Linked DNA regions of Homo sapiens. The protein of the gene in region 2 purifies or fractionates together with the protein of the main gene of each other region. This does not show direct contact. Each region holds a gene or a part of one and is shown on either strand. Other genes may lie near its edges.

Evidence for each region. Proteins that work in one complex are often made in the same cells at the same time.
Region 1: the proteins of PSMA1 (region 2) and PSMG4 purify together in Homo sapiens (affinity purification with mass spectrometry; 4 studies listed by BioGRID and IntAct, with this or other methods). This does not show direct contact.

The regions. Positions count from the first base shown.
Region 1 is NC_000006.12:3,265,245-3,268,673, reverse strand, and holds the end of PSMG4 (proteasome assembly chaperone 4), read right to left. Parts: exon of another isoform or gene 1,084-3,429; coding exon 962-1,083; 3' UTR 625-961; downstream 1-624. UniProt on the Homo sapiens protein: Chaperone protein which promotes assembly of the 20S proteasome.
Region 2 is NC_000011.10:14,513,887-14,517,513, forward strand, and holds part of PSMA1 (proteasome subunit alpha type-1), read right to left. Parts: intron 606-3,627; coding exon 517-605; coding exon of another isoform or gene 467-516; exon of another isoform or gene 24-466; intron 2-23; coding exon 1-1. UniProt on the Homo sapiens protein: Component of the 20S core proteasome complex involved in the proteolytic degradation of most intracellular proteins. This complex plays numerous essential roles within the cell by associating with different regulatory particles.

The DNA of each region.
Region 1 (3,429 bases), on a different chromosome or scaffold from region 2:
AACCTTGCCTGCACGGAGGCACCAGGGGAGCTTTCAATCCTGCCAAAGCCTGGGCCCCAGACCATCTGAACCTCTGGAGAAGGCCCAAGACTGGAACCCACTCCAAGTGGTGGGATTAAAGATTAAACGCTAAAGAGTACAAATGACCAAAGCAGGTACCTGAGGTACTCTGGATTTGGGATAGAAGAGAGGGGAGAAGGGAAGACGATGAAATAACAGGAAGAGAAAGAAGGACCTGAAGCCTCTGAATCCATAAAAAGGAAGGAAATCAAACTATAATTGACATCTAAGTGCCACGGCACTTATAGTTTGCAAAGCATTTCTACCTACGTGCTTAATCCTAAAAAGAACCCACCAAGGTGGGGATTACTCCAACTTTATAGATGAGGAGACAAAGCCTAGAGAAGTCAGACTTCACAAGACCGCAAATGCAGTAATGGGGCAGTGTAGGGAGGTGCTCAAATGTAGGCCCAAGAGAGAACACAGCAAAAAAGGAGTGCCCAGAGGAGGGGTTTAGGGAGAACACAGCAAGAAGAGACGTGCCCTGGGGTTTCACTGCAATGAGGAGATAAATGCATCAATTCACAAGGCAGAATTCTGAGGAATGCACACACAAATCTAAAGCATATTTATACATCACTTTAATTCTAATTGAGGATGCACGTCACAGTCATGTCTGATTGAAACTCTTAGATTACAGTCTTCAATCCCAACAAAAATCCCATTTCATCCCTCTATCACTCACAGCCAAATGAGGAAGTATATACTGCCCACTTTGCCTCTCCTTCACCAGGTGGGTCAGTATGAGCCTTTTGGCCCACACACTGCTGAGAAGGAAGCTCAAAAGATTAACCCCTTAAAAACAAAACGGGAGCGCGGCCTGATGACAAACTGAAATTCAATCCATTTATTTACACGTACATTGTACATAAGTTTACAAATTCTCACTTCTGCCACTCAGCTAGAACTTTTCGGGGAAAGCCTCCATCTCTTCCTTGATCCTGTTTTCTACAAGTAATGCGAAGTTACTGTCTGTGTTCTGAAGGTTATAGCTGACAAACACCTGTTTGTTGGTCTTCCTGGCTAAAAAGAGAAAACACATTGATACAGCCACTCCTGAAATACTGCAGGCCCCGTGTTCCTCACAGCCACGTGCAGCTGGGAAATGCTCAGAAAGAGGATGGGGTTGTAGGGAGAAAAGAAAGCTCTAATCTCCATGCCTCTCTTCAGACAGGTGCTGCAAATGCAGACGAGTCACTCAGGCCTCTCCCAGTCTCTCCACCAGACCCAGGGTTCTGAAGGGCAGGCCCCACCTCAGCAGCCTCCCTGGAACTTGTTCGAGAGGCAGCTGCTGGGCCCCACCCAGCCCTCCTGACCCAGAAAGCCAGGATTTGGGGCCAGCTGTCTGCTGGAACAGATCCTGCAGGTGCCCCGCACTGCTTAAGAACCTCTGCCCTACACAGAGGGGTTTCTGGTGTTTTGATTTAAAAAAAAAAAAAAAAATTTAAACACAAAAAATGGCCGGGAGCGGTGGCTCACGCCCATAATCCCAGCACTTTGGGAGGCCGAGACGGGTGGATCATAAGGTCAGGAGATCGAGACCATCCTGGCTAACACGTTGAAACCCCGTCTCTACTAAAAATACAAAAAATTAGCCGGGCATGGTGGCGGGCGCCTGTAGTCCCAGCTACTCGGGAGGCTGAGGCAGGAGAATGGCGTGAACCCGGGAGGCGGAGCTTGCAGTGAGCCAAGATCGCGCCACTGCACTCCAGCCTGGGCAATAGAGCAAGACTCCGTCTCAAAAAAAAATAAGTATTTAAAATAAAATATTAAAGTTCTCCTTCAGCACCACCCCACCCCAACCAGTTCCACTTCCCTCCCTCCTACGTTTCCATGCATTTGCATATATGTGTATACACACAAATATATTTGTGTGTGTGTGCACAGATAGGCATATGGACACACACGTAATTTTCTACTGAATGTAAGTTTTAGTCCCCTTCTACAGAATCAATAGAAAATGGCTGAGGTGCACATTGGGCCAACTGCAAAAATCAAGCAGAGTCATACACCTGGAATCTGAAAGCCAATATCCTGAAAATACGTGGGCAAAAAGGCTAAAGCAGTTGGATGTTGCCTGCCCCACTGCGCGGCCTCCTCCTTTAGCCTCACCCATACGCAGGGCCAGTGCAGAACTACTCACCCCTGGAGAGGCACTGACCCACCCCCACCTCAACATATGGCAAGCATGTACTTAGCCTCATCACCAAAAGGCAAAAGGGTGGTGCGGTGAGGCTGAGGGCACCAGGCCACCTGCACCATTACTAAAGGCCGATTTAGAACACACGTCATGGGATCTCATCTGGGCAGCAGTTCTGTCCTTTCAGTTGCTGCCATCTGAGCTATGGTCCCACCAAGAACCCTGAGAGGCAGTGTGGCTCAGGGGCGCAGGTGCAGGCGCAGGCCCAGGCCCCACCGTGGCCTGGAAACCTCTCCCAGCTTTGTTTGGAAATTGAGGAGAGGGAGAGCCCAGGACCCCAAAAGCCTGTTTTTCCGCTGTACAAGGCTGCGTGATTTTTAGGGCTGGAAAGGTCTTGGGTATTAACTCACTGACTGTCCTTACAAAGCAGCCAACACACCTATGAAAAAGCAAGGCGGCGGCAAGCACAGCCTCTGCCTGAGGACAGCTGCTGAATTGTATGACATGTGTTTACGTCTCGGTAAAGCTGTTTTTTTATTAAAAAAAAAAAAAAAGGAATGTGTCCGGACAAAGGCAGCTGTTCGGTTATTCCAAGAGCTGGTGTTTAAAGAACAGCTTACAGTACTTAGCACAGAGCCTCCCACCAGTGTGCTGGGTGCAGTGTGCCCCCGAGGCGGAGAGTTGTGCCCAGTTATCTGCTCAGCCCTGCGGGGAGTGAGGAAGCCTCTTAGGCTTCCCCCACCATTAGGGACCAACCTCATCCTTTCCTAGCTGTGTTAGGCAGGCTGGGACCACTCATGTAGAGGGTGATCTAAAGGCAGGCAGTGTGGTAGGAAGCTGGGGCTCACCAAGGCTGCCTAGGAGGAGCCTGTAAGTCACACCCTGCCCTATATCCCAGGGGCAGGAACATCCCCCTTTACCCTAAGGGGGCCCCCCTGGTATTCCAACTGTTCTAACTGCAGAGACAGGATTTCTGAGGAACAACGCTGTGTCTGGAGGCACTGAGCCCCTCAGACCCAAGCTGTGCCCCTCCAGGGCCATAGGAGGTTGGGTCCCCTTGGCCACACCAACTCCTGCGATGCTTCCAGAGCTACTGAGAACCCCCCAGGCCTTCTCTTTCCCTACCTGCTTTCATCTCTCATATAAGATACTGATTCAGGACACCTCTCCCTTTTCATTATAGTGCATTTTCAACTTGAGGGCCCAGACCCAGGCTCAAGGCAACTGGC
Region 2 (3,627 bases):
TCTTAGACTGGTTAACGAGCTTGTTTTAACAAGGAATGAAGTACTGTCTTTATTTTCAAATTATACATTATTAACAAAGGTCTCTGGCTTATTCTTTAATTGTTGCATAATCCACCAGAGAAATAATGCAATAGGACACTATTTCTTTGGCCTAATATAAAATGTTTGACTTTCTACCGAACCTAAGAAAGAGTGCCAGCAAAATAATTTCTTCCCATCTAAAACCTGATTTGTTTTGGATACAAGGGGTCTAGGATTTCTTGGGACATCTAGAACCATTAAGAAACTTTAAATCCCCTCTAAAAAGATGCTTAGATGATTTTCCTGAAGTTGGGCTTATTTGTGTCTAGCAAATATAAATTGCTTATAAAGGCTAATGAAAGAGCAATCCAATTTGTTGTTTTAAAGTTTTCACAATCTTACCTATGTCATATTATTATTATATTCCTAATAATTAACACAAGTATCAAAACCCTTCAAAGTTCATATCCATAAATGCTAACATAAAAAGGATACTGCTTCCAATTAGAGATACAAGACGAGACACAGGCAGTGGTCTATCGAATACAAATCTGGAATCCAAACACTCCTGACGCATAAAATTACTAAAAAAGAAACAAAAAAAGTTTAGTAATTTCAAATTATAGACAACTATTCCAATCTAAATTGTTTGATTTCACTTCAAATTCTTCCAAGCGTTTACATGGATAACATCCATATAAGAAAAACAGAAGGTAAGAAAGACATGCCTGCAAGGGTGCGTTTTTGTGCTAAACTCTGGAGCCACATAAGGTTTTTAAAAAAGACTGAAACATTTTTTAGCTCTAGAAAATCTTTGTATCAGAGCACTTATGGAACAGAGAAGAGAAGGCTGAACAAAAGAAAAACAGCAACCTCTCTTCTCTTATCCTTCCCACTGTCAGCAAGCTTGTCGTAATTCTAGATCTCGAACCAGCAAAAAGATTATCTACTCTGTCCTTTTTTCTTGAAAGCAGACTAACATTTCTCCAAAAGAGCAAATATAAGAAATGGAAAACACAGCAGGGGGGATCTTTACGTGTTTCTGCCACTGTTACTTCTATTCATAAGAAGCACTCTAGAGGAGATACTGGACACTAGCCGCTGAGTCTCACTGTTAAATCTGATGAAATTCAAGCAAGGTTAACATTGGGGAGAAGAGAATTTATGCCTATAAATAAGATAAACAAGAAATGGATATGCTCCTTTTTCTCAATGTTGCTTTGTCCAGTATATGCGTATGTCACATCTGATCATCACATGGTTGACTACAGGAACCAAGCTATTTGTTCAGTACTTATATTTAAGTCCATTTCCCAATGCTGCCTAAAAGTATACTGCCCAATATGGCAGGCAATAATCACATGTGGCTATGGAGCTCTTGAAAAGTAGCTAGACTGAATTGAGATGTACACCAAGTACAAAATAACATACCAAATTTCAAAGACTTAGTACCTAAAAACGTGCAATAACTCATTAATAAAGTTTTTATATTGATTATGTGTTGGCATGGCAATATTTTATAGATTGGGTTAAATAAAATGTTTGATAATATAATACATTTTCCATTTTGAAGAGTAGGTGGAAACCCTTAAGGCTGTCATTATATTGCTGACTTAGAGCAAGGGACTGGCTGAGTAAATTGAAATTCTTTTTTTTTTTTTTTAATACTGAGTTTCGCTCTTGTTGCCCAGGCTGGAGTGCAATGGCATGATCTCAGCTCACTGCAACCTCTGCCTCCTGGGTTCAAGCGATTCTCTTGCCTCAGCCTCCCAAGTAGCTGGGATTACAGGTGCCTGCCACCACGTTCAGCTAATTTTTTTATTTTTAGTAGAGACAGGGTTTCACCATGTTGGCCAGGCTGGTCTTGAACTCCGGACCTCAGGTGATCCACCCGCTTCAGCCTCCCAGAGTGCTGGGATTACAGGCATGAGACACCATGCTCAGCCTGAAATTCTTAAACCATAGCATTACTATTTACACTGTTTTTGCTGCTGCTGTTGTTTTAAGAATAGGGTCTCACTCGGCTAGGTGCTGTGGCTCACGCCTGTAATCCCAGCACTTTGGGAGGCCGAGGCAGGTGGATCACGAGGTCAGGAGCTCTAGACCAGCCTGGCCAATATGGTGAAACCTCGTCTCTACTAAAAATGCAAAAATTAGCCGGGTGTGGTGGCACATGCTTGTAGTCCCAGCTACTCGGGAGGCTGAGGCAGAAGAATTCCTTGAACTCTGGAGGCGGAGGTTGCAGTGAGCCGAGATCATACCACTGCACTCTAGCCTGGGCGACAGCGCGAGACTCCGTCTCAAAAAAAAAAAAAAGAATAGGGTCTCACTCTGTTGCCTACGCTAGAGTACAGTGGCACTATCATAGCTCACTGCAACCTTGAAATCCTAGGCTCAAGCAATCCTCCCACCTCAGCCTTTTGAGTAGCTAGGACAACAGGTGTGTGCCACCACACCCAGCTAAGTTTTAAAATTTTTTGTAGAGATGGGGATTCACTATGTTGCCCTGGTCTCAAATTCTTGACCTTAAGCTTCTCAAAGAGCTAGAATTATAGGTAGGAGCCACTGTGCCAGGCCCACCCTTATAATTTATATTCTTTCTTTCCTAATCAAATCACAAATTTACAAGATTAGTTTTAGCTAACTACCTGCCATCCACAACACACATACTCACATAATACCTGAAAGGCTCTGTGTTAGTGGTTTACAGTAGGCAATTTAAAATATTTAAAAATAGGCTGGGTGCAGTGGCTCACACCTATAATCCCAGCACTTTGGGAGGCTGAGGTGGGCAGATTACCTGAGGTCAGGAGTTCAAGACTAGCCTGGCCAACATGGCGAAACCCCGTCTCTACTAAAAATACAAAAATTAGCCAGGCGTGGTGGCGGGTGCCTGTAATCCCAGCTACTCGGGAGGCTGAGGCAGGAGAATCGCTTGAACCTGGGAGGTAGAGGTTGCAGTGAGCTGAGATCACACCACTGCACTCCAGCCTGGGTGAGAGTGAGACTCCATCTCAAAAAAATAAATAAATAACATTTAAAAATAGCCTTGATAAAGAAAACACTGGAAAAAATTCAGTGTTTAGGTATTTAGCCAAATCTCAGATACTAAGTGGTGAAGGTGAGAACTCAATATGTGCAATTTCAAAGCCCTATCTCTTCATTTATGTATTGCCTTTTAACCATAAATAATCTGTCTCTTCTAGACTCTCACAGAAATTTTTCTGTTATATTATAGATAAACTACATTTGAGTTTATAGATAAACTTGCCTTCAAGTTCCCTTAAGACAAGATCCATGTCTGAGTCACTTATGTATACCCTGCAGTATCCAGTATTGAGCATTGCAAAAAATAAATGTCTAATAAATACTGATGTATTGAAGAAAACAAGCACAAAGAAAACAAGTGTGGTTCAGCTTGTCCTTAGAAACCAGACAAAAGTATCACGTTCTTCTTAGACATAACAGGGTCTCAAACGATATACATTGTATTAACAAACATCACATTACTCAGTGACTTCTGAAAAGTGCTAATGTTTAATCTTATTAGTTACTCCTACAGGGATCAAAAAATGGAAAATTTAATAACAAACTCAAAACCACCAA